Homo sapiens: one gene and its partners. The protein of the gene in region 2 purifies or fractionates together with the protein of the main gene of each other region. This does not show direct contact. Each region holds a gene or a part of one and is shown on either strand. Other genes may lie near its edges. The genes, in order: STK40, ZNF397, SCAND3, P3H2, P4HA1, FAM91A1 and P3H1.

Region 1 (4,333 bases), on a different chromosome or scaffold from region 2:
CTCACAGTGAGTCAGCTTTTTAGGGGGAGGAGAGCGGCTCACACTCTGGGAAACACAGTCACCTCCCCACTGGGGAGCAGGGCCAGGCAGGAGGGGCCTCAGGGCCCATGACTGCCTGGAGGGGACACTCAGCCTCTCTGAGGACATATGGGGGGTAGGCCTCTGGGGAAGGGTCTTTGCTTGGCATCAGGCAGGGCCAAGTCCAGTAAGGGCAAGGGGAGGGGGCATTCTGGTGAGAACAGCATTTCTGGCAAGACGGGCATCCACTTCAAAATCTCGGCTCAAAAGGGCAGCAGGGCTGTTCTCAAGCCAGGCAGGCAGGGTCCCCCAATCCCTACAATTCTCCTGAGTCCCTCACCACCATGGAGGACCCTTGCTAGGGTCTACCGGGAGAGTCACCACATCTATTATGAGGCAAGGGCACTGGGATATGTTCCCACCATCCCCTAAACACAAGAGTAGGCTAGGGGAGCGTGCAGGCAGCCCCCGCTCACGGCCAGGCCTGCAGCCCAACCCATGGGCCCCTTCGCACTGGGAGTCCACGTGAGCTCAGTACCACGGGGAAGGATAGAGAAGGGAACAGGTTAACGCGCGTGTACAGCACCTCAGAGAAGCCACTGAGACGGGAGAGAAAGAGCCAGGTCTAGAAAGGCCTCCCATCACCGGCAGCAGAGAGGGACTGGTGGGCTGAAAGGGGACAGGGACTGGCAGGAGGGGCTTCCCTGCCTGGGGGTGAGGAGGGAGCTCACGTGTGGGCTGTGGATTCCTTGCTGTCCAGCCAGGCTGGGGGCAGGGAGTGGCCATGGACTGAGCCACCTAGAGATGGGAGAGAAGTTGGTATGGTAAAAAAATAAATATATTTGAGTTCGGTTTAAGATGAGGTGAAGGTTTTCCAAAGCTTGGACTGAGGGGCCTGGATCAGAAAGAGAGGGACGGAAAGAGGCTGTGGCAGGGGCCTGGGAGAGCAGGGAGGAGGGGAAGCTCGCTCTGGGGCCTGCAGCGAGCTGCACTTTCAGCTTATTTGGACTGTGGGGAGCAGCGCCCCAGGTCAGTTGGTGGCCGCTGGGGAAGGCCCTGGAGTGGGGTGAGCAGGCTCCCTCCTCCCTCTTGCTCAGTCCAGAGACAGCATGGTTAAAGAGACAGAGGTAGATTAAAACATCGTGATTAAAAGCAGATTAGTTATCTAGGCTTCTCAGATTTAAAAACCAAACAATCGAGCAATCATCCCAAAAGGTAGCTTCGTGGTACCTCTGCTGACCCCACGTGTGACCTGGGCTGTCCCTGTCCCTGCCCTGTCCCTATTGTGGCCCGGGAGAGTCCAGCACTACAGGGCCCAGCCCTGACAGCCACGCCTTTGGCTGGGGCTGGAAGAAGTGGCAGCAGTGCTGGTGGCCCCGGCTGAGGCTGTTATTTCCGCAGGTAGCGCTGCGCCAGGATGGCCGTGTCCAAGGAGGTCATGGGCTGTGCGTCGTGGCCCAGCCGTCGCACCGGTGGTGCGCTGCCGAACTGCCGCTTGGGTACCCAGCTCCGGGCGTCATGGATGGAGCTCTTCTCCTCGGCCAGCAGCAGCTGCTGACGCATGTAGTTCTCAAACTCGTACTGGGAGCACTCCTCCGTCACCTTCGCCTTTGAGGCGGGGAGGGTGGGAAGGAGACAAAGATAAACCCAGATGAAGGCAGCGCAGCAGACAGGAGGGCAGGCAAGAGTGCTGGCAGCCTGGCTCCTGCAGTCACCCTTCCAGGCACCACACCCTCAGGCCTCAAGGCCGGGGGTGGGAGTGGCGCTGAGGGTGGGTCCCTGACCCCCTCCAGCCAACCTCAACTCCCCTTGCAGGCCGCCCTGCGGACCCGGGACTGACGCAGACTCATGCTTCCTAACTCACTGGCTGCGTGAGAGGTCACTTTACCTCAGAAGCCTTAGCTGTCTGGCCCCTCGCAAAGGTTCTCTGAGCCCTGAGGCGGCTAATGCACGTCAAGAGGTACGAGCAAGCCCTGGGCTGGGGGCGCAGCACCTGGAGGAGCCACATACGCAGGGCCCCATGCTGAGCTCCCTGGGATGGTCTAGGCAGATGGTAACAGAAGCTGAAGTGGTGTCCCCGTGCCAGTCACCACAGGAGACAGCAGGGCTTCCGGATGAGACTTGGGTTCAAGGCTTAGCTCCACTACTTCTAAGCTGTGTGGCTTTGGGAAAGTCCTCTCTAACCCTGTTTCCTCTTCTGTAACATGGGGCTAAGAACACAGGCCACGCAGGCCCGCAGTGAGGGCTGAATGAGGTGCCCTCGGGGTAGGCACTCACTGCGGGCTAGTGATGATGATTTTAGCCAAACAGCTAAAGGGTGGAAGCTGGAGGTGGGTAGGGATTGGAACTCTCTTTCCTCGGGGGCCAGGAGGCTCTGGGAGGCTCTCCCAGGCACGGCCCCTCCTGGTCCTACCTGCACACTGCTCACTGTGGAGCTCCAAGGTGGGCCAGGGAGGGAAGGTCCTTCCAATATCCAGGGCCCAGCAATGCTGTTGCTCGGCCAAGCCCTGCCCTCCAGGGGGCACCCTAAGATCACCTGCCCTCTGCTGCCTGGTGCCCAAGTCTCTGCCCCCACCCTAGGCCCAACACTTTCTCCAGTGCAGGGAATGGGGAGGAAAGAAATAGGGAGAAATGAATCATCTGAAAAATGAAAAGCAGGAAGGGTGAGAGAGAACTCTGAGTCAGGGGGCAGAGAAATGTGACTTGGGCAGCAGGAGGAAGCTGAGAGGGCTGGCCTGGGCCACTTGGGCACTGGCTCCAGCTCGGCTGTCTCACAGGTCTCTCTGGCCAAAGATCTCCAGCTACACCAAGCCCAAGGCAGGCCCCAGGCAGCTCAGGCTGAGGACTGAAGTCTCCCTTTCCCACCCCAAGGCTGGGGAAGAAGACCAAGGAAACTCTGTGGCCTGCGGGTAGCTGCCACCTCTGCCCTTGCCCTGCCTGCCCCCAGAAGCCTGTCCCTTGGGGCTGGGTAATGGCCCATCTGCCCTCCCCAACTCACCTCCTGGGAGCTATCCGCATTGCTCATTTGGTCATCAATGTCAGGAACCACTTGCAAAGGCCCACTCAGAGATGACAGGGACTGCCTGCAGGGAGGCAGACAGGTCAGGCTGGCCCCAGAGAGACCAGGTCCATTGATCCCAGACTTAACTGGAGTCAGACACACCTGGGTTGTGTTCCTGCCATGAGAGACTGCTTCTCTGAGCCTCAGTTTTCTTATCCCATAAAGGGGGACAATTTCTCCCTTACAGGTGGTGGTGAGAACTCAGTGAGGCAATGCCCATGCCCCGCTGGCAGGGCCTGGGTAACTATGGCAGCCCATAGTTGCTCAACCTTCAGTTCTGCCTATGCCCTCCCAATCTTGTCCATGCAGAGAATCTGGAAATCTGACTCTAACTGGCAGAGAAGCAGGCTGACTACTGGCTGCTTTTCTGGGTAGGATGGGCAGAGGCCCTGAGGACGCAGCCTTGTGCCCGGTCAAGTGCCTGTCCACTTACCATGATGCAATGATGGCACTGAGGGCCTCCAGGACGTCGGCGGCGGCCAGGCGCTGCTGGGGGTCAAGGACCAGCAGCTTCCGGATGAGACACACGGTGTTCTCAGAAACCCGTCCATCCCTGAGGCAGGGAGTTGGGGAGGAGGGCTCAGTGGGTGGTGCTGGGTCTGTGGCCAGGATGCCCAGGCTCACTGTGCCGTTTCCCTGCCTTAAGCCCATCAGGCTGGCTGCCCCCCCCACCCCCCGGGAGGCAGGACTCACTCAGGAATGGTATACTCGGCAGCCTTGATCTTGCGGAAGAGCTCCTGCGGGATGCTGTCGTAGAAGGGGAACTGGCCATACAGCATGGTGAAGAGCACCACGCCCAGGGCCCACATGTCACTGGGCTTGCCACGGTACGGCCGGCCTACGGGCACACACATACCACACTGTCTTCAGGCCACAGCACCACCGTGGCTCACCAGCCTGGAATCCCACCTGGGACCCTCCACCTGCCACCCTCACTTCCAGTCCCCCCAGAGTCGTCCTCTGAGCTCCTGCCCGTGCTCCCCGCTCCCCTGTTCCTCAGGATGCACCTCTCCTGCCCCAAGGAGAGGGCTCACTCAGCACCTGCTCACAGCACCTGCCCCGCCCGGCCAGATGGCGAGCCCCTGGGAGCCAGGCATGGGTCTGCAGCCCCAGCACCCAGCACAGCAGCTCACAAGCAGGGGGTCAAGAACACTGGCACAGCAGATAACTAGCTGGCTCCAGATGAGCTGGCCGCTCCTCCTGTCACCGTCCCCACACCCCACCTGCCTCCTTCACAGCCCGGATGACTACTTG
Region 2 (3,971 bases):
GGGAATGAGAGCAAGAAGGAGCCTCTTAAACACAAACACGTCCTGTGTTCACCAGAATTAGGACTCTCTCTTCCCTTTAGTGGAGGTGGCTGTATGCACCAGACTGGAATCTTCAACACTAATTGCTGAGAAGGACCAAGCTTAGACCTGTGGACCTGCCATGACCACCTCCTCCCTCAGCAGGTCTTCAATGAGCTTGGAGAGATGAGGGTCAGATTTGCTTTAAATTTCCAATCCTTTCAGCTGGATGTATTAGTTGCAGGCTATGGAAATGAGGGAAGGGGAAAGGCAGGAAATCAAAGTTAAGTACACTAAATTGCACATTATCTTTTAAAATCTGTTTAAGACTCATTTAAGGTAGACATTATTATTCCCTGGACTGCTTCTATACCAAGAGAAACAGGACAGCCCTGAGCAGAAGGGAAAGGCATGAATTACTTTTCTTCCAAGCAAGAGTGGTGAAGACGAAAAAATTTCCTTTGACATCCACCCTATATTGGTGCCCCTTCCATTTCATAAAAAGTGGAATGTTGAAGTTTTGACCATAAGAGATCATCTACATCAGCTCCTTTAAGTGAGGGTCTAGAGTTGGAAGATGACTTGCTTATGGCTATGGAATACATGGAAAAACTCTAATAATCAAAGATCTCCACTTCAAAGCTATTGCTTTTCTCAACTGTAAATCTTTCAGGCAAGAATTCCTTTTGCACCCAGATTTATACTTTGTAGACTTTTTAATATACTAGGTGTGAGATGGTTATGTTTACCATTGTCATTTTACCAGTGATGAAGGGATCAGAGTTAACAAGTTAGCTAATTTCCTGAAACTTGGAAGAGACAAGAGATGCTATGAAAAGCAAGTGCTTTTAAAATATTTTCTCAAGCATCCTGGGATTCCATTCACTCTTGCCCCCTAATTTTAAGAGTATTAGAGGTTTACTATAGAAAAATTTGGAAAACACAAAAAAGCACAAGAAAAAAATTACATCACCTACAACCTCAGCACCCACACATAACCAGTATAGCACTTTATGTTTTCAGTATTTTTAATACATAAATATATATTTTACATAGGATCATACTGTACATATTGTTTTGTAATATTTTTACTTAACAATATATCATGAATACTTCATTTAATATTAATTGACATCAGTGTTTTTTTTTTTTTTTTTTTTTTTTTTGAGACACAGTCTCACTCTGTCACCCAGGCTGGAATACAGTGGTACAATCTCGGCTCACTGCAACCTCCACCTCCCGGGTTCATGCAATTCTCCTGTCTCAGCCTCCCAAGTAGCTGGGACTACAGGCACATGCCACCACACCAGCTAATTGTTTTGTATTTTTAGTAGAGACGGGGTTTCACCATATTGGTCAGGCTGGTCTCGAACTCCTGATCTCAGGTGATCCACCCGCCTCAGCCTCCCAAAGTGCTGGGATTACAGGCATGAGCCACTGTGCCTGGCCTGTGACATCAGTTTTAAGAGTTTCAGGATTTTGTGTACATTCATGATGGTTACTGAAACATACATTTCCAGGTACAATTTCAAAGTCAAAAGGCAATGCTTAAAGCTTCTGGTATTGATTGCCAGAGATGGTATGTATTTATTCATGTCTTACCAGCAGCATTAGAGTCCCAATGTCCCTGAATCCCTGTCTGTTTTATAAGGAAAAGTGTCATCTCAACTCTTGCTTTAATATACATTTTAACTGTAGTGAGGTTGAACATTTATTGTTCATTGGCACTTATTTTGTGATTTCCCTACTTAAGTAGCATTTTTTTTCTATTGGAACTTTCTTATGGGGAGAGAGTATACTGAAGTGGCTCCACAGTCAGGTTGTGGGTTCAAAGTCTGACCTCCCCACTTTGTAGATATATGACCTTTAGCCTTCATTTCCTCATCTGCTACATACGTGCTGAGAAATAACAATAATAAGTATATACAAAGCCCTTAGCAAGTATCTATTACATTTACTTTTTTCCTTTTTTTTTGGTTTGGAGACAGGGTCTTGCTCTCCCAGGCTGGAGTGCAGTGGTGTGATCTTGCCTCACTGAAGCCTCGACTTCCAGGGCTCAAGCGAACCTCTCACCTCAGCCTCCCAAATACTTGGGTCTACAGGCATGCACTACCACGTCTGGCAAATTCTGTTTATTTTTTGTAGAGATGGGGTCTCACTATGCTGCCCAGGCTCGGCTTGAACTCCTAGACTCAAGCAATCCTCCAGCCTTGGCCTCCCAAAGTGCTGGCATTATAGGTGTGAGCCACTGTGCTTGGTCTATCTATTACATTGCTTTCTGACATACAGTAGAGCTTTCTTATATAAAGAGTATTTCCGTTTTACAATTCCTACTTTACGTCCTACCTTTTCAGTTTGTTCAGGTCTTTATCTATGGAAAAGGAGAAAAACAAGAGTTGAGTAGCTCTTACCACGTATTTTAATCTCTTACATCTTTTCCAAATAATCCCATCCATTTTTTCCATATTCTCTCCCTAAACATGGGCATTTAGGCCTCCTGCTGTTCTTACTGGTTAGCACATGTCCACTGATGCACGCCCCAATAAGAGCATTACTTCTCTTTGCTTCTTTTTATCCTCATGAAAATTCTTTTTCTATGCACATGATTCTAGATTTCCATACAGATTTGTTTTTGGTGTGGTATGTTATTCTTCTGACCTATTAGGTCTTTTGAATATGTCTTTGTGTTGCTGGTTAACCTGTACAACATTCCTTCTTACACTAAGCATCAGTCTAAATATTCTCTTCCTGCTAGGCCCCTCAGAAAAGGGAAGTCTTGACTGACTGTGACCATTAGTTTCAGTTGTCACTTCCTTTTAGCATTGTCTTTAATAAAATTTGCAAAAGATGGTTGGGCGCCATGGCTCACGCCTGTAATCCCAGCACTTTGGGGGGCCGAGGCGGGCGGATCACCTGAGATCGAGAATTCGAGACCAGCCTGACCAACATGGAGAAACCCTGTCTTTCCTAAAAATACAAAATTAGCCAGCTGTGGTGGTGCATGCCTGTAATCCCAGCTACTCAGAAGGCTGAGGCAGGAGAATCGCTTGAACCCAGGAGGCAGAGTTTGCGGTGAGCCAAGATCGTGCCATTGCACTCCAGCCTGGACAAGAGCGAACTCCATCTCAAAAAAAAAAAAAAAAAAAAAAAAATTGCAAAAGATATTGTGAAATACTGGTGACATAAGACAAAACTGAACATGTGCGAGGTGCCCAAAGAATGTCACAGACCCAGCAACTGACAAATATTTTTTGAGCACCAAAGCCCAAGGGAATGTACTAGGAATTGTGGGCGTATAGCCCCAGAAACAAATGATATGGCAGCTTCTGATCCAGAGCGTTGGGAATTTTAAGAAACCTGACAGCAGCTCTGATATTGTCTTTAGAATCAAAGGAGAATAGAGTCTTAACACTCTAGCAGACTCTTGAGGTATAGGCTGGGCTCTTTCTCACCCTCATTCCCACCACCACCCTCATGGAAGTTCTAGGATAGCCTACAGGTTGGGCAAGGAAACCACATATTTGCCCTTTCCCTGGGGTCACATAAACCAAGACAAAGCTCTTGACTACCCTGTGGCCCAAGGGCTCCAGGTTTTGTCTATTAACAGGAACTTCTCCATTGGCACTGCTTAAGAGTCTGGCCAGACCCAGACTTCTCTGACAGACAAGACCTCACTACAACAGGAACTCAAGGAATGCTCCACACTTTGTTTCTGGCCTTTGGCTACTGTTCTTTACTGGGGTACCACTTCCCTAGAGTACCACCTTGGCTAACTCCTCCTCATCCTTCAGGCCATTTCCCCCATTTCCTTATCCAAGGCTGAGTCAGGTGCTCCTTAAGGTCACATAGGAGCATTCCACTTTCACTGCCTGTCTGGCTGCCTTGCCCATTAGACTGTAGAGACTACAGTCTTGTTTTCCACTGTATTCCTAGTTCCTGGGACAAAGTAGGTA
Region 3 (4,333 bases), on a different chromosome or scaffold from region 2:
TTTTAGGGCTATTAACTACAAACTCAATACAAATAGCTTCATTACTAATTTTAATAAGAGTACTGGATGAGTCAAAATCAGTGAAAAATTTCTGACTTAATAAAGCTTATTAAAAGAAATTTCTAGAATACTCATAATAACAGAAACACTAAGAATACTTCAAATTTGGCTAAGTGTTAAGGAAAAAAACTATTTTGGAAAAAGTAAAAAATAATAATTTGGAATTAGCATAACATCTCTAGATAGTTTTATAGTTGCTTGGAAAAATACTTTCACTCAAGTCAACATCATTTATACTATCAATTTGCATACCAAATAGTGAGACAGAGCAGGGACCCCTCTTAGGGGCCTGTCAGCCACCCCTAACCCCAAGCATGGTAATAACAGAAAATCTTGAGTTCCTTCAAGGGAAATTCCAGGCATCTAACTATCTTTAAGAAGTAAATGAGCAACTTGATAAACAAGAAGGTAATACCTTAAAACAACATCCAAAAAAGTTAGTCATGAGATGTTCCCTATATTAACTAAAGATAGCATCTTAACATATATCCCTAAGTTGTTTTTCAGAAACCCATACCTCCACCAAATGGATCCACTGGTCTGAAGACCTCAGATAATGGGGAACTGAGGACTGAACTCCAACCGCTGCTTTGTTCTAAAGTTCTTCCTGTGGGGCCTGGAAGAAGTCACACCCGCAAGCCAGAGCTAACCTTTTTTTCTGCTGATCCCAAATTTTCAGACAAAGCTTTGCCTCCTTAACCAATTGCAAATCAAAAAATCTTTGAATCTACCTATGACCTGTAAGCCCCTTCTCTGAGATGTCCATCCTACCTTTTTAGGTCAAAATAATGTACAGTGTCCACGTATTGATTTATGACTTTGCTTGTAACCTCTGACTCCCTTCTTTTAAAAAAACTTTACTTGCAAACCATTGGGGAAACTGGGTCTTAATTTTGAGGGGACCAATTCTCCTTGCTTGACACTCTGCAAATAAATGCCCTCTTTTCTCCTGTTGATGTGGATGTTTGGCTTTCCTGTGCCAGGCAAGTGAACCCGTTTGGTTCTGTAGCAGTAATGAACTACTAAATTTAAATCATCTAAAATGTTTATATTTTCTAAAACTAGGTTAAAATTAATGATATGTTACTGTGTGGTTTGGCCTCATTTAACTCTCAATTGTTCCAGTAAGGCTTCTTTGATCATTAAATTTAAACTCACAGTGAGTTTTCCTTTCCTGAAAATCATTATCTATTTATAACACAAGTTAGCACTATCGCAGTTTTTTCTTTAACTGTTTTATAGGTAGATGCAACAAGACTGTAAGTTTCTAAAGAAACAGAGATCACTTATTTCTCTAGTATCTTTCACATTATCTAACACGTTACTACATCTAGTGTTCAATAGAAAATTGTTAACTTTATAATAAAATAACAATAATGGTAAGTGCTATCTCAAAATGTGACTGAAAAAGACCATCCTATGGATAGCATTTCTTTCCATACTGATCCATTTTGTGCCATGCTATAGAACTAGAAGCAGAGAAGGAAAATAAATAAGAATGAATTAGAAGAAGAAATACAGGGCAATGTCAAGAGAACCAGGAAAATATGAGCCCCAGAAGTTTGTAGAATCAATATTAATGTCTAAGAAAATTGTTAGGGCTATAAGAGGAGAAAAACATTGTATCCATTTTACCTAATCCTTTTTAAATGGAAAAGATAGCTGTTCCAGAACCAGGCCAGACTCCACCTCTACTATACATTATACCAATAACAGACCTTAGAACACTAATAAACATAGACTTCAGAAATTCCATATTCTAAGGTAGAATTTCCAAATAGTATTTCCAATGTATACACAGTCATTATGTGACAAAAATTGTGGTCAGAGGCTACAGCAATGGGACCCATGACTACACTGACAAGTGCTCAGTATTTACATACAGAGGTATCTGATTTATCCACAGGTACTTACTAACTTCATTACAAAGTATCCATGAAAAATCTTGTGTTCAAGTATTTTTGACATTATTATCTGACTGTTTTAATTCAACTCCCTTAATAACATTACACTATACTGATTGGCTTTTCCTTCAACTATTAATACATTCAGTAGAAGCTGAAATGGAATGAGGTTTGATAACTTTCAATACTAGACCCTTCATTCTCCCAAGTCTCACCTTCTTTCTTAGAACTAAATTATTCTCACCATTATCTTGAAGTGGGTGTGGCTCTGGAGATTCACATTCCATTCTATCTTCCATAGACTGAAGCTGGGTGCCTAAAGACTCCTTTGCAGAATCCAGAGGGATCATTTCTTCCATAGAAACTTCCTGCCCATATGTGCCCTGTGAGACCTGTGGACAAGTAGGTGCATTTGGTAAACAATACAAATAATTGTAGTTTGTCATAGCTAAACTTGTATTCTTCCACTAAAATAGAATGTAAGAAGAAAATCAGTCTTTACTGAATTCTTAAGTACAAGATAAAACATGAAGAGAAATGAAAAATGCTGGGACTAATAAAGCCAGAGCCATACAACAGAAACTGATGTCTCTATAGGACAGGAGTTAAAACGCATCCCTTTGGTTTCTGTTTCTGGGAATAACAATGAAAGCACGTTAAAGAAATATCTCCTAAACCGTGATGACTGAAAAAAATTGTAAATGAGTTCCAGTGTGGTTAATTAAAAGTAAATATTGGGCTGGGTGCAGTGGCTCATGCCTGTAATCCCAGCACTTTGGGAGGTCGAGGCAGGTGGATCACCTGAGGTCAGGAGTTCGAGAGCAGCCTGGCCAACATGGAGAAACCCTGTCTCTACTATTAATAATGCAGATTCACCAGGCCTAAGAAAATGTACAAATTGTTAAAGGATTACAGAGTTATTAATGGTTACACTTACGCTACATCGAGTTGGAAAATGTCCATGGATAGTGAATCCCAAAATTGCACATAAACCAGAATATTCTAAAAGGGAATATCCAGTGACATAGGAGGAGATGAAAGCCTACATATTATTAGAATATCATGTTGGGATTTAAGATTCTGTGTCATGCTCCTTTCCTCCAACTTGGATACCACATAATAAATTTATTCTTGCCGGGCATGGTGGCTCATGCCTGTAATCCCAGCATTTTGGGACTAATAAAAGGAGGCCAAGGTGGATGCATCACCTGAGGTAACGAGTTCGGGACCAACTTAGCCAACATGATGAAACCCCATCTCTACTAAAAACACAAAAATTAGCCAGACGAGGTGGTGCACGCCTGTAGTCCCAGCTACTCAGGAGGCTGAGGCAGGAGGATCATTTGAACTCAGGAGGCAGAGGTTGCAGTGAGTTGAGATCATGCCACTGCACGACAGAGCGAGACTCCGTCTCAAAAAAAAAAAAAAAATTCTTAAACTGTGCAAAGCACATTTCAAAAAATCATTTTCTCAAAATTCATAAAATGGTTAAGCCAGTTCCCTTTGGTATGTTTTTCCCTTCTCTGAGCTTAATAAGGTATCTTATGTAAATTGCTTTGTATAATATAATAGCATGCATTTCAATTTGTCTAAATCTTTGCATAACTGCCAGAAACAGAATCTGTGAAAGAGGGCCACCTGCTGTTTATAATTAAACAATGTATCAATTCTGTAATGTTAGTATACACAATCCCAGCTTTTGGAGCAACTAAGAAACAAAATATGGATATGGTTCATTGTGCTGAATTATTCACTGACTCTCCCCCACCCCCCCACCCCCCCAAGCACAAACACAAATCTAGTCTCTTGATTCCTCTACTTTTCCACCAGCTGGACTAGACCAAAATGGGTGGGCCTGGTCTTAGAACCGGGAGGAACTCCACTTCTGCCTCTACCACAGAAGTTTGAAGAGTACCTTGGGTAGTGGTAATAAATTACAAAACTGAAGTTACTTCAAACTGGTCATGACAGTCATTAGTCTTTCAGTATTCAATTCCTGGGTTTGATTTTTTTTAACGCTGGAAAGAAGCTGAGTGCAGTAGCTGACATCTGTAATCTCAGCACTTTGGGAGGCCGAGGTGGGAGGATTGCTTGAGCTCAGGAATTCGAGACCAGCCTGGGCAACATAGTGAAACCTCATCACTGCCCAAAATACAAAAAATTAGCCAGGCATGGTAGCACATATCTGTGGTCCCAGCTACTCAGGAGGCTGAGGAAGGCAGATTGCTTGAGCCTGGGAGGTGGAGGTTGCAGTGAGCCAAGATCGTGCCACTGCCCTCCAGCCTGGGTGACAGAGTGAGATTCCATCTCAAATAAATAAATAAAAATGCTGGAAAGAAACTTTTGGTTGTAATATGGTAGAGTAAATA
Region 4 (4,333 bases), on a different chromosome or scaffold from region 2:
AAATACTGTCACTTTTTATGGAAATAAAAAGAATGTAAATTATTGATATATTGCCTAATAATTAATTAAAATAAAAGGATTTCTCCAGCAACTTTATATGATAGGCAGGGACCTTGCTAGATGGCTGTTGGGCTAGGAAATATGCCAGTAGCTATTCCAGATCCCACCCGGGAAAACTAAAATAATCCCAACCCAAAGGCTATAAAAGTTCCTCAAAAATAATTTATGTCTTTCTCCTCAAGAAAGCAATATTTCAGGGCTTGTTGTCTGGCTCCAGATGAGACCAGGACCAAAGCAGTTCCAGCTTCTTGGCAGGCCAGCGCAGTGAGCTCCCCTCCTTCTCCGGATCCTCACACTGGCCACGCTGTGGAGCTCCCGGCACTGTTCTTCCGACAGGACGTTATCCAGGAGAACCCGCTGAGTCCCGTTCAGCTGCTCCGAGTTGTAGACGAATGTGATGTTCTCATAGAGTAGAGGACCACCTACAGGAACAGAGCACATTGTCTTCCCTGTTACCTCTGTCCCCCGAAAGGAAGCACAGAATACCAAACAGCTTTCAATGTGCAATTCGAGTGAGTCCATTTCTTCATGAATATTTAGAAATGCAAAGACAAATTGCAAATTAGGAAGCTTGATAAACACAATATAGATTCAGGAGAAAGATGTCTATCGGGTTTCCTCATAATGTCATAATAATGTTACATGCGTACATTATTTTGGGAGAGATAGAACTACTTTTGCATTTGTTTCTAATGCTGATCCCAAAAAGTCGACTGGGCATCTCATAGGACTCTCTTCTGAGAAAGTCCACCCTTGTTCACAGCCCCTCATTCATACCTCTGTCGCAACACCACAGATTGCATGTTTGGGTCCCCAGGTATGACATGCACACCTCAGTTTCACTGGTGTCTAGAGTAACACCTTCACTAGGTGATTCAGGTAGTCACACCCAAGTCACTTGACTCTGCCTCAGTCTTCTTCCTACCACACAACTGACCCTAGGTTGTCTTGCTTTTGGAGTGTTTTTCTCTGTTCTCCAGGCAAAATCATCACGTTTCTATTTCCACACAGGAGGGTTTCCCTTAGGCACCTACTCTCTTCCCAGAGAGAGACCACAAGTTTATAAAATTAACTCCAGATAGGCTCTTCAGAGGGTGATGCTTTGGGGTCACATTTTAGGTTGTGAAATTACAAAATCCAGACCTGACAAAGACTTTTTTTCATAGAGTAGGACTGAAGGACAAAGCCTCTGATAGAGAGGAAATCTTCTGGTGTAGCATAGTGCAAACATTTTGAACCAGAAAATGGAACAGAAAAGAAAACACTGCTTCTAACCATTTATAACACTCCCAAGGGGCCTGGTGCGTGCTTGTCCATAGCAACAGCCGAAGATAAGACAGCAGGGATAGGGAAGGCACAACTCCCTGCCACCCCAGGTCTAGCAAAGGTCACCAACACGTTGGCCTAAAACACTCCAACAGAGGAAGAAGAGACAATTGAAATTGATGTCTACTTTATAAAATAGATTAGTCAGCCTAGGGAAGAGCACTGTCTAAATGTTTATTAGTCTAGCTAGGATAAAAGACTCACTACAGCTCATGATTAATGGAATATTAAAAGCATGAGGCAGTGTTTCTCAATCTAGAGTAATGTTCGGTTATCTGTTAAAGCAGAAGTTCCCTAAGGAGCTCCAGTGCTGACAAATTATTTTCACTCTAATTTTACTTCTATATATGCAATCATAAAACTATGTTCACATTATTTATTTTAGTAGTTTCATACAGTACCCAAACCAATTTACAAGACTAAATAAAAGCAAGACCATAAAATGAACTAAATTCCAATCAACAAATGGAATGGTTAACGTTATTTTTCTGAAAATAAAAAGCTACCTTCCACATGAATATTCTACTCACTGATCTGGTCTGGGTTCTTTTGAGCCAGGATTCCTTATAGTACTGTTGGTGTGTAATTACTATTCTACCACAACTTTTCTCTAGTTAAACTACTACACAATCTTAATGTACCACGATTAATTTTGGCCTTTGTATCAGTCCATTTTCTTGCTGCTAATAAACACATACCTGAGACTGGGAAATTATAAAGAAAAAGAGATTTAACGGACTCACAGTTCCACGTCTGGGGAGGCCTCACAATCATGGTGGAAGGCAAAGAAGGAGAAAGTCATGTCTTACATGGTGGCAGGCAAGAGAGCTTGTGCAGGGAAACTCCCGTTTATAAAACCATCAGATCTTGTGAGACTTATTCACTACCAGGAGAACAAACCACCCCCATGATTCAACTATCTCCACCTGGCCCTGCCCTTGACATATGGGGATTATTACAATTCAAGGTGAGATGTGGGTGGGGACACAGCTAAACCATATCAGCTTTCATCTAAGCCTAATACATTATTTATAAGTGCATCGTATTTCATTTATTTCTAGTCTTTAATCATTGAAGTATTATTAGTTGGCGTTAATATGACCATAACTGTGCCCATTGAACTGTGGAATCCCATGACACCACCTGGCTAGAAGTTGATCCCTTAGATAACCCCTAATTGCTTCTCTTAATTTTTGAAAATTGTGATTAAAATTTATAAATATGGAATTTTTGGATCCCAAGAATATATCCATAAGCCTCGTTTCAGTATCACATCTTTTAGTTGAATAGAAAAATATGCTTTTCTACAATTCACTATTTCTCAAATTGTGTTGCATTGAAAGTTCTGGGAAAGTACTGGGTTAAATAAAAGATAAGAGGACGTCTCAGAACTTTTAATATGTGAACAGGCCTTATTAATGTCCTAAGTAGTAACATAATATGCAGCAGTTTTTAGCCTTAATTGAATACAATTCTCTCCCTCCCCGACTCCCCCAACTTCCTTCCTGCAGCAGAGACTTTACGATGGGCTGCAATGATCATTGCCTCCCAACATTCATACAGCTGTGCAATTTGCTTCCCACAAGTGCGAGTGGAACCTGGAACTTACTTCTAAACAGTAGAATATGGCAAAGGTGATAAGGTGTCATTTCTGTGACTATGTTACATGAAATTGCAACTTCTCTCTTGCCTTCTCAGTCTCTTGCCTTCTCCGCTGCCATGCTGTAATGAAGCAAGCGGCTGTACTGGAGAGGATCACATGGCAAGGAATAGAGGGCGTCCTCCAGCCAACAACCAACTAGGAACTAAAAGGCCATAGTCCAACAACTTTTTGGGAACTGAATTCTCAGCCCTGGTCAACAACTTGACTGAAACCGGTGAGAGATCCTGAAGCCAAAGACACAGTTATGTTCTCTGCAGACTCTTACCCCACAGAAACTATGAGATAATAAATGGATATTTTCATAAGCTGCTATATTTTCATTATGTTTTCACAGCAATAAAAAAAGTAGTCTTTAAAAAATTTATTTGACAGGGTCTCACTGTCACTCAGGCTGGAGTGCAGTGGCACCACCATCATGGCTCACTGCAGCCTTGACCTCCTATCCTCAAGCAATCCTCCCACCTCAGACTCCCAAGTAGCTGGGACTATAGGCACGCACCACCATGCCTAGTTTATTTTTTTTTTTGTCAGGGTCTTGTTATTTTTTTATTTTCAGGGTCTTGCCCAGGCTGGTCTTCAACTCCTGGACTCAAGCCATCCTCCCTCCTCAGCCTCCCAAAGTGCTTGGATTCGAGGCATGAGCCACCACGCCCAGCCAAGTAGTCTTTTAAAAATCCCCCCTAAACGTCTTAGCATAGAACGCAATTTGGAAAAGGCTGTTCTAATCTATGTAGCTGATTAAAGTTTGTAGTCAAATTGAGACAGGCATTCCCTCGAATATTTGGAAAAGTGAACTGTATATTCCATTCCAATTTAGAAGTATAAAAAGAAATGTTCCTTCAAGAAGAAAGATAAGATACTTGTAGATTCACTGAAAAGCATCTGCTAATAAAAACTCAAATAGAAATGAAAGACAGATGAGAGATTTAGTGAATTAAGTTGGTTTATACTTTGCCAAGTTTTTCTCTTTTTCTACATTGAAGATGTATTATTTTAAACATAATTAGCTTATTTTCAAAATATGATTTTGAAAGTTAGCAAAAATGAAATATTTAGGAAAATGTCTACCAGTCTTAAGCTCCATTATAAGTATGTATTATCATTACTATCGTTATTGTTGAATTAATAAGCTACACCTGGAATACTGTGTTAAGTTCTGATTGAGACACCTTAATAAGCATAGAGCCTTAAGAGAAGGCTACTGGGATATTGACAATTCTCCTAGCATTCCACAAGTAACATGCAAAGATCAAGTGAAGGAAGAATGTAACATGGAGTCTTCAA
Region 5 (4,333 bases), on a different chromosome or scaffold from region 2:
GCATTTCAAAAGATAGGCCCAAAGAGGCAAAAGAAACAGATGAAACTAATCAAGGAGTGATGTGGCATCAATATAAATTCACTAAGCATTTCTCTGACTTTTTTGTTTGAAGAAAATTTAAAATACATGCATCCTTCCTCCCTCACCCCCACCATTTCACACCCAGATTGCTAAAATTTTTAAAGTCTGACAAAACCAAGAGCTGGCAAGGATATGAAGAAATGGGAACTCTCATACAATGCTGGTGACAGTATAAATACATGCTCTGGAAAGCAATCTGGCCACATCTGGTAAGTATGATGAAAAACCAAATACCCTATGATTTCTTATACCCTAAGAGAAAGCCTTGCACGTGAGTACATGGCCACAAAAAGAAATCAACAAAGATGTATCAAACTTCATTTGATAAAGCAAAAAATTGGACAAAATCTAAATGTACATCCATCCACAGAAGAATGAATAAATAATGTTATACAATACCACATTAGCAGTTAGATGAATCTGATCAACACAGATAAATTTACTGAAAATATTAGGTTAAAAAAAGGTTGTAGAAAGATACATAGAGTATGATGTACTATTGACATAAAATTTAAAAACACAATACAATGGAAAATATATATGATAAAGTATAAAAAGATGACAGGATACGCACCAAGTTCAGAATAGTCATTACCTCTAAACAAGGGAAGGTGCACAAGAAGCCTTCGAACACATTTGTGATATTTGACTATTAACAACAGAAAATAATCTGGGTTGGGGGAGCCTAAAAACTCTTATGCTAGTATTCATGCTATTATTTTTACCACTTATAGGGTATAATGTGATTAGGAAATTTCAGTTATTCTACTTATAAGGAATTTGCCTGAAAGAAAAGTCAATAAGAACTAGCCCAAAACTGTGATAAAAGAGGAAAAAAGTCAACAAGGAGATAAAAAGCACCTGAGAAAGAATGAATATTGCCCCTAAGACTAAACACAGTGAAATCAGGGTTAAATAATATTCAGGACCATTTTGATGGGAATATAATCATTTTTTAAACAAAACACATATAGTAATCTAAATAACATTTATTACCCACCACCACACATTTGGGAGGCTGAGGTGGGATGTTTTCTTTTTTGCTTTTTGTTTTTTGAGATAGGGGTCTCACTCTGTTGCCCAGGTTGGAGTGTAGTGGCGTGATCACAGCTCACTGCAGCCTTGAACTCCTGGGCTCAAGTGATCCTCCCGTGATATGGTTTGGCTCTGTGTTCACACCCAAATATCACCTTGAATTTTAATAATCCCCACCTATCAAGGGCGGGACAAGGTGGAGATAACTGCATCATGGGGGCAGTTCCCCCATGCTGTTCTTGTGACAGTGAGTTCTCATGAGATAGGATGGTTTTATAAGCACCTGGCATTTCCCCTGCTGGCCCTCATTCTCTTTCCTGCCACCCTGTGAAGAAGTGCCTTCTGCCATGATTGTGAGTTTCCTAAGACATCCGTAGCCATGCGGAACTGTGAGTCAATTAAACCTCTTTTTTAAAATAACTTACCCAGTCTTGGGTATTTCTTCATAGCAGTGTGAATACATCCCACCTCAGCCTCCCAAATAGCTAGGACTACAAGCAAGCACCACAACACCCAGCTAAGTTTTCATTTTTTTGTAGAGTCAGGGAATTGCTATGCTGCCCAGGCTGGTCTTGAACTCCTACCCTCAAGGGATCCTTTCCACCTTAGCCTCCCAAAGTGCTGGGATTACAGGCATGAGCCACCATGCCAGCCCTATTTTGTTAAATGGAATCTATCCAGTTGATGAAGCCAGAAATTCCTATCAAGTACATCATCAAATTCTACTATTCTACTCTAATAAGTAGCTTGATAATCTATCCACTACCACCTCTTACTTAAATATTTGCAACAGCCTCCTCCCTGGTTCTTCGTCCCTTGGCCCCAACCCAATCTCCATTCGGCAGCCAGAATGGTTTTCTAAAAGGAAAAATCATAAATTTCCCTTACAAACTTTTTAATAGCTCCGCACTGCACTCAGGACAGTTCAATCTCTTCCACATGGCTTACAAAGCTCTCCAAGAGATGGCTTCTGCTTACCTCTCTAGTCTCAGCTCTCACTACTCTCACAAAGCCAAACCCCCATATCCACCTGGTGCGTTCACCTCTTGAACTCTACATTAAGCCATACAAACTACATGTTAGTTATCTGAATATGATATGCTCTCTCCTTTTGACCTTTCTACATGTTCCCTCTGTCTGAAACACTTTTCCCACACCCACTCCTGTCTCCCTCTCCCCCATTTTTCTGGCTAATTCCTGGTCCATTAGATCTCAATTTTTTTAATGTGTATCTTCCAGGAATTCTTCCTTTACATCCCTTATGAGGTCCAGCAATAGGTTTCTTTTGATGTGCTCATATGGTATCCTGAATTTCTCCCATCCAAGCACTCATCTTACTATACTGTAAGAATGTTAAATACCCTAATGGCGAGGGTAGTGTATGTCTTGTTCATTATGTGTCCCCAGTACCTAACATAATAGCTGGCACATATTAAGTATTTAATATCTATGAAAACCTGAAACCAATTTTAAAAATAAGGTTATAATCTTATCAAAAGCGTTATAATGTATAATATTAGTAGAAACTGAAAATTTGCAAATTTGTACATTTTTGGAAGTTCAAATTAATGGAATTATATTCCAGCTTAACAGAAATTTTATTTACTATTATACCATGTTTAGTTTTTACCAACGGATACCTTCACCTCAAATAAAGGGAGATGAGCAAGAAAACATTTTGATTAACAACTCATCCCAGTGATTTTTTCTTACGGAGAAAATCAATTTCAATGTGAAGACACAGACAACATATTTTATTTCTGCAGCTGACAATAACAGGAGATAGTAGTGGTAATGAGTCACAAACTTTGAAAAAGTGAGGGACGGCAAAAGTAAATTATCATGAAAGCAACTGTAACTTAAAAAGAGGACTTTGCCAAAAATAGGTCAGAAAGTAGGATGTTCCATACTATGGAACACTTTAAACATATGTGGATACCCAAAACATCTTGGCTTTTAATTATTTAACATATAAACTTTGACTATCAATCCCTTATAGCTTTACATACAAAGCTTTCAAATAGTATTAGGTGTTCTGAATAAAAACATTTGGTGAAATGATAGTTTCTTTTCCTTACACACTAAAATTCCCTACTTAAGTTAGTCTCTATCAATACAAGCTTTCAGAGTAACAAGCTAGAAGCTAGAAGCATACCCGTAACTATTAAGCCCTAAGAGAAAGGGAAGGTGATTCTTTAGTCTTCGAAGGCTATGAAACAAACTACAATTTAAAATCTTAAAATGCAAGTCTTTTTTATACTAACATTGTGTTAATGGACTCAACAGAGAAGCTAGGTGATAGGTATTTTATAGAATGGAAGAATGATCTTACCTGGAAGATTACCCTTTGAGATGGTATCTGTATCCAAATTGTAGGTATCCTGGAGACGTAACAGAGCTTTGGCTGCCCCAACCTGATCTTCATCATTAGGAAAGTACTGTCTCTGAATGGTTAGGTTAGAGATAAAGCCTTGAAATAGATAAATCAAAGAAAAAAAAACTGTAGAACCTCATAAACTTCCCATAAAGAGACTTAATAAGGATTGTTCAAAATCTATTTTATTATTTTCTACCACACCATGAAAAGTTCTACATACTCAACAAGAAAAAATTAAATACACTGAATAAGACTTGGCATACTTCTAACTTGTTCAATCTTCCAAAAGCCTAGTGTTGCTTAAGGACTGTGACGCTGTTATATAAATTGTATCTGTATTAGCAGGTAAAGATCACCTAACATAATAGTTATGAGTTTTTAGTTATATAACACAGCAAGAAAACAAAGTGCATCCACTAAGTTTGAGAAATGAACACATTTATGGGTCTGAAATGACATTCATTGACAATCAATTATACTTCCAGATAACAGATGGTAAGTAAAATATGTGCTCTTAAAGTTGTTTTTTTCTTCCATGTATTACACATTATATAAATATGTAAATATATAAAGTTTGGTGGAATTCTTCAAGGAGAAGGAAGAGATATTAACTATATATTTAAGATCAACAGCAAAGCTAGTTTACTAAAATATATTTAAATCAGTTTAATTATCAAACATGACGTTGATCAACCAAAATTTACAATATATAAACCTAATCTTAGAGGATTTATATAAAGTATGCAAAAATCAAACAAACCAATTACTGATAACTATATAACCCCAAGAAGAATGAATGCTAAACACTCCTTAAGAAATAAAAAATTGGTTTAAAATTTT
Region 6 (3,347 bases), on a different chromosome or scaffold from region 2:
CAATTCTTGCTTAACTAATATTAAAAGTTGGGGAACATATTCATGTTTTCTGAAGTTTTGCTCATTATTGCACATCTTATTGCGACAAAGTGCTTTTTAGCAGCCAGCACTGTATTTTTTACCTTGAGACAATCTGCATTTCTTTTATAAAACTAAGTATATACTTTATAGGCTTTATGATGACTGTTATGTTTATAAGCAGTCACTATGAAAATTGCAATGGTAATTTTATATGTTAGTTTATCAAACATAAATCTTGTTTAATTTTATATTTTGTTACCTATACTTTGGGGGATCAAGGGAAGAGATGGAACTCTTCCTCTGAAAAGGCTTCTTGGTACTTAAAGTAGTAAAACTATAAAACAATAAACATCCAGTATTGAGAGATGATATGATAGGGCATTATGAATTCCTATGGGTGTCTGTAAATTATGTATGTCAGTTGGACATTGTAGAAGGTATGTAAATCAGCATAGTTGTGTATAACTTAACCTTGATTTATAAGGTCTTAAGATTATGACTATTCATTGACATCTCATGAGAAGCTTTAGAAGACTTTCTATTTTTAAACACCATTTATATGTGGACTTCTGTTGTCACTGACTTTGGGCTTTATATTTTCATAGAGTCTTTATGGAAAAAATAGAATTTATTTTCCACTCTTGTAGCTATAGCTGCTGCACACTTTCACCCTGATTTATTTTTTTGTTTCTTAGCTTTGATGTTTTCAAACCAAGGATTGTGATTTTAGGTTAGAATTACATATTAGAAGCATTAAGACTATGTCTTTGGATCAGAATGCTTTAGTGATAAACCTACTTTGAAGACATACTCTTAAGCAATCTGGATCTTAAATTTATGTGAATACTTTTTTAGAAAATGATAAAGAAAAATGGAATTACTTCAAAGTGTTTCTTGAGTCATTGATTCTTTTAGCATCTCAAATGTTAATTAGAATAATTGGAATCACTTTTTAGACTTTTCAAGTTACCTTCCTTGGGAAGTTTGTGCAGTGTTATAGTTTAGTTTAGCTCCTCTTACAGGGTAATGGTTTGCTAGTTTAAAACTGTAACCAAACGAACTGGTCAGACAACATATATCTAAAACACTTAAAATGTTAGGAAGTTTGGGAATGTTATAACCTAAACGTTTTTGCTGGTAACTTTTTGTTATTTATAGATATTTGTGTATTTAACATACATACTTCAGGAAATATATGCCTTTCCTAAAACTTAACCATGCATTCAATACCATGGCCTATCTATAGAATTGAATATTTTGGACCATGTTATCTGTGGCACAGTCAGTGCTGTGTTTGAGGTAAATGCAGTAACGGTTAGTTTTCTACTTTGTCTTATAGAAGGTAGAAACCATGTGTATGTTATGTTTGTCTATAAAAGAAAAAATACTAATATTAAATAATTTCTTACGACTCTGAGTCACTCACTTATTTTTCCAATAATTGATATTGTACATTCCTAGTGCCATTAGGTATGTATGTATGTAACTTTTACAGTTTTTCAGCTGAAAGTTGTAAGTATTTTTTTTTTTTGATCGGGGCTCTTTAATCTCATTTTAATTTCCTTTGTTTGAACTGTAGTTATTTTATTTATTCCTATATTAACCATCTAAACCAACTGTAATGACATGTACACTAATACAGAATTGAACATTTGTAGTTGTTGGCAGTGAACCCAGTTGTTGGTGAATTTAAAGCTTAAAATATGGGAATGATTTGCTGCTATATTTCCTTTGAGAGAGAAAGGAGGAAGAAATAGAACCTAATAGTGATCATGAATTTTAGGGAAAGTACCGAAGAACCATGGGGTCCCCTCTGGTTTCTTGTGTTGAATGAGGCAAGGGTAATCATCTGATTCCGAGCTGAAGACCTCTGGTCCTCTTAAGGAGGGAGAGTGCATTTTTAGAGCTTTTAGCAAAATGTGAAAAGCTGATGTTTGCGCCTTGCTTTGTGAATTTGGCTTTGTTTTACTTATACATTAACTCATGTAATCTCTTAAATCTTACAAGCATTGATCCATTTCAACAAAAAGGTAAATTTAAAATGCAGACTTTGTTATTTGCCAAAGAAGATTCATGAAAAATTTACGTCCAATTATTTTGCAAATAGTTAATTTCATTTGGCTTTTTACCATGTTCCTTCCTTTCTTTTTCCCGCTTCCTTAATGTAATTTAAACCCTGGCAAACATTCTTTAGAAACCAAGAGGAAAGAAAGAACAAATATCAAAAAAGACATAGAATTTAATATTGATACAATTTCACCTCTAAAATGGATTTGAAGAAATGCAACTTTATATCAAAAAATGTCATCTGATTTCCTTTGTTTCTTTTTTAAATTATGTAATCAGATGATTTTATGTTTTTTTTTCAGGGGAGCGGAATATTGGTTTCTTTTACTTGTTGTTTTCAGTTTTCTCTGCCATTCATGTTTCTTTTTTGTGTTCAGTGTTTCAAATACAATTTGTATTTAAGGATTTTAAAATACCAAACTGTAACTGAGTACAGTGGATCGTTTTCTGTTAGGATGTTAATATTATACAATGAAATCTATAAAGTGTTGTCAATTTGATTATTGACACATATAACATGTTTACAAATAAACTGTGGTATTGATCAAGTTACTATGAAAATGTGTTTAATTTTCTGAAAGTTCCTGTCTTAATTTTAAATACAACCATGGTTTGGTGCTGTGGCTTTCCTGTACTTAAAAAAAAAAAAAACCCACAAAAAACTTAATTATTTTGTAGTAATTTCAGATTTACAGAAACTGGCAAAGATAGTCAGATGTTCCCTGTACCCTTCACTGAGCTTCCCCTAGCGTGGACACCTTCTGTAAACTATGGCAGGTCTATGAAAACTCAGAAGTTAACCCTGGTACTAGTATTTTCTAAACTGCACACTTGATTAGGCTTTTACCAGTTTTCCCACTAATGTCTTTTTGTTGTCAAGATCCAGTCCAGGATACCACATCGCATGTATTTAGTTATCAGTGTCTCATTAGTCTCCTCCAATATAACATTTTCTCGGTCTTTCATGACCTTGACACTAGAAAGAGTACCGGTCAGTTATTTTGTAAGACATCCTTCAGTGTGGGTTTGTCTGATGTTTCCTCGTGATTAGACTGAGGCTACGTTTTATCAGAAAGGGTACTACAAAGGTGATGTGCCCTTCCCCCCAGTACAACATATCTTAGGGTACATGATGTCAGTATGTATCACTGGTGATGTTTCTTTATTGGGTAAGATGGTGTTTGCTAGGTTTTTCCACTGTAGGGTACTCGCATTTCTATTGCTGGGCCTGTGTATTCCGGCTATGGAGAATACCTGGA
Region 7 (4,333 bases), on a different chromosome or scaffold from region 2:
AGAATAGCTTGAACCTGGAAGGTGGAGGTTGCAGTGAGCCAAGATTGTGCCACTGCACTCCAGCCTGGGTGACAGAGCAACAGTCAAAAAAAAAAAAAAAAAAAGAATGACTTTTAAAAGTAAGTTGTGGCCAGGTGCAGTGGGTCACACCTGTCATCCCAGCACTTTGGAAGGCCAAGGCGGGCGGATCACAAGGTCAGGAGATTGAGACCGTCCTGCCTAACATGGTGAATCCCTGTCTCTACTAAAAATACAAAAATTAGCTGAGCGTGGTGGTGTGTGCCTGTATTCCCAGCTACTCAGGAGCCTGAGGCAGAAGAATCGCTTGAACCCAGGAGGCGGAGGTTGCAGTGAGCCGAGATTGTGCCACTGCACTCCAGCCTGGGTGACAGAGCGAGACTCCATCACACACACAAAAAAAAGTAAGTTGTGTTGGCCGGGCGTGGTGGCTCATGCCTGTAATCCCAGAATTTTGGGAGGCCGAGGTGAGTGGATCACTTGAGGCCAGAAGTTCAAGACCAGCCTGGCCAACATGGTGAAATCCTGTCTCTACTAAAAATACAAAAATTAACCAGGTGTGGTGGTGTATGTCTGTAATCCCAGCTTCTCAGGAGGCTGAGGCGCTAGAATCACTTGAACCCAGGAGGTGGAGGTTACAGTGAGCTGAGATCATGCCACTGCCCTCCAGCCTGGGCTGTCTGTCTCAAAAAAAAACTCTGTCTCAAAACAAAACAAAACAAAAAGTAAGTTGTGTTTATTTGAAAACTGTTAGCCCTACAAAAAAGTGCAAGAACCTAGGCCAGGCACGGTGGCTCATGCCTGTAATCCCAGCACTTCGGGAGGCCGAGGCGGGCAGATCACCTGAGGTCAGCAGTTCAAGACCAGCCAGACCAACATGACAAAACCCCATCTCTACTAAAAACACAAAATTAGCCAGGCGTGGTGGCGCATACCTGTAATCCCAGCTACTCTGGAGGCTGAGGCAGGAGAATTGCTTGAACCCTGGAGGCGGATGTTGCAGTGAGCCAAGATCGCACTATTGCACTCTAGCCTGGGCAACAAGAGTGAAACTCCGACTCAAAAAAAAAAAAAAAAAAAAGTGCAAGAATCTGTCACTAATGGGGGGGGAAGAAAAGTACAAGAAAATCATAATGAACTCCTAGATATCTTTCATCTAGATTAAGAGTTAAATGTTTTTTGGCCAGGCACAGTGGCTCACACCTGTAATCCCAGCACTTTAGGAGGCCGAGTTGGGAGGATTGCTTGAGGTTAGGAGTTGGAGACCAGCCTGGCCAACATGGTGAAACCCCGTCTTTACTAAAATACAAAAATTAGCTGGGCACAATGTAATCCCAGCTACTAGGGAGGCTGAGGCAAGAGAATCACTTGAACCCAGGAGGTGGAGGTTGCAGTGAGCTGAGATTGTGCCACTGCAGTCCAGCCTGGGCAACAGAGTGAGACTCTGTCTCAAAAAAAGAAAAAAAGAGCTAAATGTTTTTAAATTTCCAGAGCTAAATATTTTGTAAAGACCATTTACAAAAGGCCTTCATTTTATAGTGGTACCCAGGTCACCCCTTTCCATCCATAACCTGAGGAACAGGAAATTAGGACCCCTGTGAAGGTGGCTGAGGGCAAGGAGAGAGGGTTCCTCCTCTGTGGCCTGCATTTGAGTGCTCCTTCTTCCCAGTAGCAAGAATTTCGACTGGGAGTGCGACTCTACTCAGAGGAACAGCCACAGGAAGCTGTGCCCCACCTAGAGGCGGCGCTGCAAGAATACTTTGTGGCCTATGAGGAGTGCCGTGCCCTCTGCGAAGGGCCCTATGACTACGATGGCTACAACTACCTTGAGTACAACGCTGACCTCTTCCAGGCCATCACAGGTGCGTGCAGTTCAGAGCCAGACCTTCAGCCAGGCCTCCTGGGACTCTAAGGTCACCATCTGATAATATAAATGGGGACTCTTCACCCTCATTCCTCAATTTATTAAATCTGAGAAGCTGATGAAAAATTGCTTCCATTTGAATTTGTTCATCTTAACCAGAATTTGAGTTCTAAAGAGTGACCTCATAGTTATTCCTTCTGTTTGATTCCTTTCAGATCATTACATCCAGGTCCTCAACTGTAAGCAGAACTGTGTCACGGAGCTTGCTTCCCACCCAAGTCGAGAGAAGCCCTTTGAAGACTTCCTCCCATCGCATTATAATTATCTGCAGTTTGCCTACTATAACAGTAAGGCCTACTTTCCTTCCTCTTTCTCTGCTGGCTAACTAAGAAGCTAAAGGCAAGGTGGGCAGGGATTACAGCCACTTACTTCCTCAAGGTGTTTGGCTTATTTCAGTAGCTATGGGAGGCACCATGCCAAGTGATCCCTGGGTAGTTTGTTATAAACAACTGGCCTAGGAAGCCAATACCAGCAACCCAAAAAGCTGGGGGAGGGAGACTTAGGACCTCATCTCTTGTCCCTTCTATAACTTGTAATCTATTTTTGCTTTTGAATTAAAGTTAATAGCAAAATAAGGGTATGCCACAGTTTAAACTAGCTCAGAGGACATTTGCTAGCCCTCTCCCTGGTATAGCACTGATGCTTTTGTGGGGCTGCCAATTAATACCCAGAAAACCAACTCTTTGCAGAGTCCCTACTGTGTGCTAAGCATTACAAACATATTGATGAGTGTACAATATTTACAGTTGAGTTGAGATGACTAACAAATATCAACAAGAACTATTTTGCCAAAGAGACAATCTGCTATTGTAATCTTCCTTGTCTTCTGAAAATCTATAGAAAAAAGAAGGTAGGAAGACAGGGAAATTGATCTAATGATTGAGTGTATTGAGGCAAAATATTAAGGAGTATTGGAATTATTTGTGAATCTTAAAAGATGTGGGCATGCAGAGAATTCTGATTCTTTTCTGTTTCATTGTTAGGCAGCCCTGAGGACATTGACCACCTCACCTTAAAATTAATCACACATTCTATGTGTATTACTTAACTCCTGCCCCTGAAATCAGGCCATCATGTTAAGTAGCAGGCACCAGCTTGTCATGCTGCCATTGCCTCAAGCTTTGTGGAGACTGAACACTAAGTGGTCCCTGGTGCTAGGATTTTATCCTTTCCTTTTGACTCTTTCCTCTCAGCCATTCTTCTTTCCACTTTGCAGTTGGGAATTATACACAGGCTGTTGAATGTGCCAAGACCTATCTTCTCTTCTTCCCCAATGACGAGGTGATGAACCAAAATTTGGCCTATTATGCAGCTATGCTTGGAGAAGAACACACCAGATCCATCGGCCCCCGTGAGGTGAGAGACTTCCTTCTGTTATGACAGCTGCCAGCTGAACTCAGACCTGAGGGCGGAAGAGTGGGGTAGCAGAGGGGAGTAGGCGCTGTGCGTGCAGGGCAGGGGCCAGATGTCAGTGTTGGGGCCAGATGTGAGTTCAGTCACTCGGCTTGTTATTCAGAGGAGAAGGGAGCACAGGGAGGGAGTGTGGGGAGTACACAGGAGCCTCAATTAGCGTTATCTGGGCCCAGAAGTCTATTCTCTGAGTCCCGCAGAACTGCGCGGTGAGCATATTCTTTCCCCTCTTGGCACCCCTAACTTGGACACTCGATATTATTTGGCCAAGAGCTATCATTTTTCACTTAATACTGGTTGTTTTTTTTCTGCTCACCTGTTTTCTGTCTCCATTTTCTTTCCCATCTCTTCTTCTTCCTGCCATTGTTTGTTCTCTCCCATCTTTCAGCATTTTCCCTGTCTCTCTCCAAAACCAGGAGAAATATCTGTATAACACAAAGACTGCTGCGCTGAAAGGAGACACCCAGGCTCTTCTTCCGAGCTCTGGAGTCTGAGAGCCTCCAGTAGAAACAGCCTCTTGCTGCCCCTCCTGTGTGGGTTGTCATTGTAGTTGTCCTCTTTAGCCACTAGATGGTGACCATCTGGCTTTAAGATGGCACTTCCGGTCTCTTTTGTCTTGTTTGGTTAATACCTTTTCCCTGCCTTCCTTATGGCCATTAAGGGGAGTCTGAGGGGAGTGAGGGGAAATAAACCCACGTGGCCAATCTAGCATTTTTAACTAGAAGTCCCCTTTTGGAAAGAAGGCAACTAACATTTGTTGAGCCGCTGTCCAGGCGAAGCTCTGTGCGGGGTGGGCTGTATCCATCATCTCATTTAATCATCACAGCCACCCTGCAAGGTTGGCACTCTTCTTCCCACTTTAGGGATGAGGACTGTTAGCATCTGAGAGATGAAGTAACTTGTGCAGTGGCTTGTGGCCAGTCAGTGGTGACCGGAATCTGTTCCCTGCTTGGACCCAGTGCAGGCACAGCTCCAGACACA

Evidence for each region.
Region 1: the proteins of ZNF397 (region 2) and STK40 purify together in Homo sapiens (affinity purification with mass spectrometry; 3 studies listed by BioGRID and IntAct, with this or other methods). This does not show direct contact.
Region 3: the proteins of ZNF397 (region 2) and SCAND3 purify together in Homo sapiens (affinity purification with mass spectrometry; 2 studies listed by BioGRID and IntAct, with this or other methods). This does not show direct contact.
Region 4: the proteins of ZNF397 (region 2) and P3H2 purify together in Homo sapiens (co-immunoprecipitation; one large-scale study listed by IntAct). This does not show direct contact.
Region 5: the proteins of ZNF397 (region 2) and P4HA1 purify together in Homo sapiens (affinity purification with mass spectrometry; one large-scale study listed by BioGRID and IntAct). This does not show direct contact.
Region 6: the proteins of ZNF397 (region 2) and FAM91A1 purify together in Homo sapiens (affinity purification with mass spectrometry; 3 studies listed by BioGRID and IntAct, with this or other methods). This does not show direct contact.
Region 7: the proteins of ZNF397 (region 2) and P3H1 purify together in Homo sapiens (affinity purification with mass spectrometry; 3 studies listed by BioGRID and IntAct, with this or other methods). This does not show direct contact.

The regions. Positions count from the first base shown.
Region 1 is NC_000001.11:36,340,348-36,344,680, forward strand, and holds part of STK40 (serine/threonine-protein kinase 40), read right to left. Parts: intron 3,918-4,333; coding exon 3,773-3,917; intron 3,633-3,772; coding exon 3,513-3,632; intron 3,102-3,512; coding exon 3,017-3,101; intron 1,627-3,016; coding exon 1,408-1,626; 3' UTR 1-1,407. UniProt on the Homo sapiens protein: May be a negative regulator of NF-kappa-B and p53-mediated gene transcription.
Region 2 is NC_000018.10:35,246,866-35,250,836, reverse strand, and holds the end of ZNF397 (zinc finger protein 397), read right to left. Parts: 3' UTR 1,029-3,971; downstream 1-1,028. UniProt on the Homo sapiens protein: Isoform 3 acts as a DNA-dependent transcriptional repressor.
Region 3 is NC_000006.12:28,577,064-28,581,396, forward strand, and holds part of SCAND3 (SCAN domain-containing protein 3), read right to left. Parts: intron 2,357-4,333; coding exon 2,209-2,356; exon of another isoform or gene 2,180-2,208; intron 1-2,179.
Region 4 is NC_000003.12:189,974,204-189,978,536, forward strand, and holds part of P3H2 (prolyl 3-hydroxylase 2 isoform a precursor), read right to left. Parts: intron 483-4,333; coding exon 355-482; intron 1-354. UniProt on the Homo sapiens protein: Prolyl 3-hydroxylase that catalyzes the post-translational formation of 3-hydroxyproline on collagens. Contributes to proline 3-hydroxylation of collagen COL4A1 and COL1A1 in tendons, the eye sclera and in the eye lens capsule.
Region 5 is NC_000010.11:73,065,398-73,069,730, forward strand, and holds part of P4HA1 (prolyl 4-hydroxylase subunit alpha-1 isoform 2 precursor), read right to left. Parts: intron 3,587-4,333; coding exon 3,449-3,586; intron 1-3,448. UniProt on the Homo sapiens protein: Catalyzes the post-translational formation of 4-hydroxyproline in -Xaa-Pro-Gly- sequences in collagens and other proteins.
Region 6 is NC_000008.11:123,812,804-123,816,150, forward strand, and holds the end of FAM91A1 (protein FAM91A1), read left to right. Parts: 3' UTR 1-2,649; downstream 2,650-3,347. UniProt on the Homo sapiens protein: As component of the WDR11 complex acts together with TBC1D23 to facilitate the golgin-mediated capture of vesicles generated using AP-1.
Region 7 is NC_000001.11:42,756,748-42,761,080, reverse strand, and holds part of P3H1 (prolyl 3-hydroxylase 1 isoform 1 precursor), read left to right. Parts: intron 1-1,690; coding exon 1,691-1,880; intron 1,881-2,097; coding exon 2,098-2,229; intron 2,230-3,158; coding exon 3,159-3,298; intron 3,299-4,333. UniProt on the Homo sapiens protein: Basement membrane-associated chondroitin sulfate proteoglycan (CSPG). Has prolyl 3-hydroxylase activity catalyzing the post-translational formation of 3-hydroxyproline in -Xaa-Pro-Gly- sequences in collagens, especially types IV and V.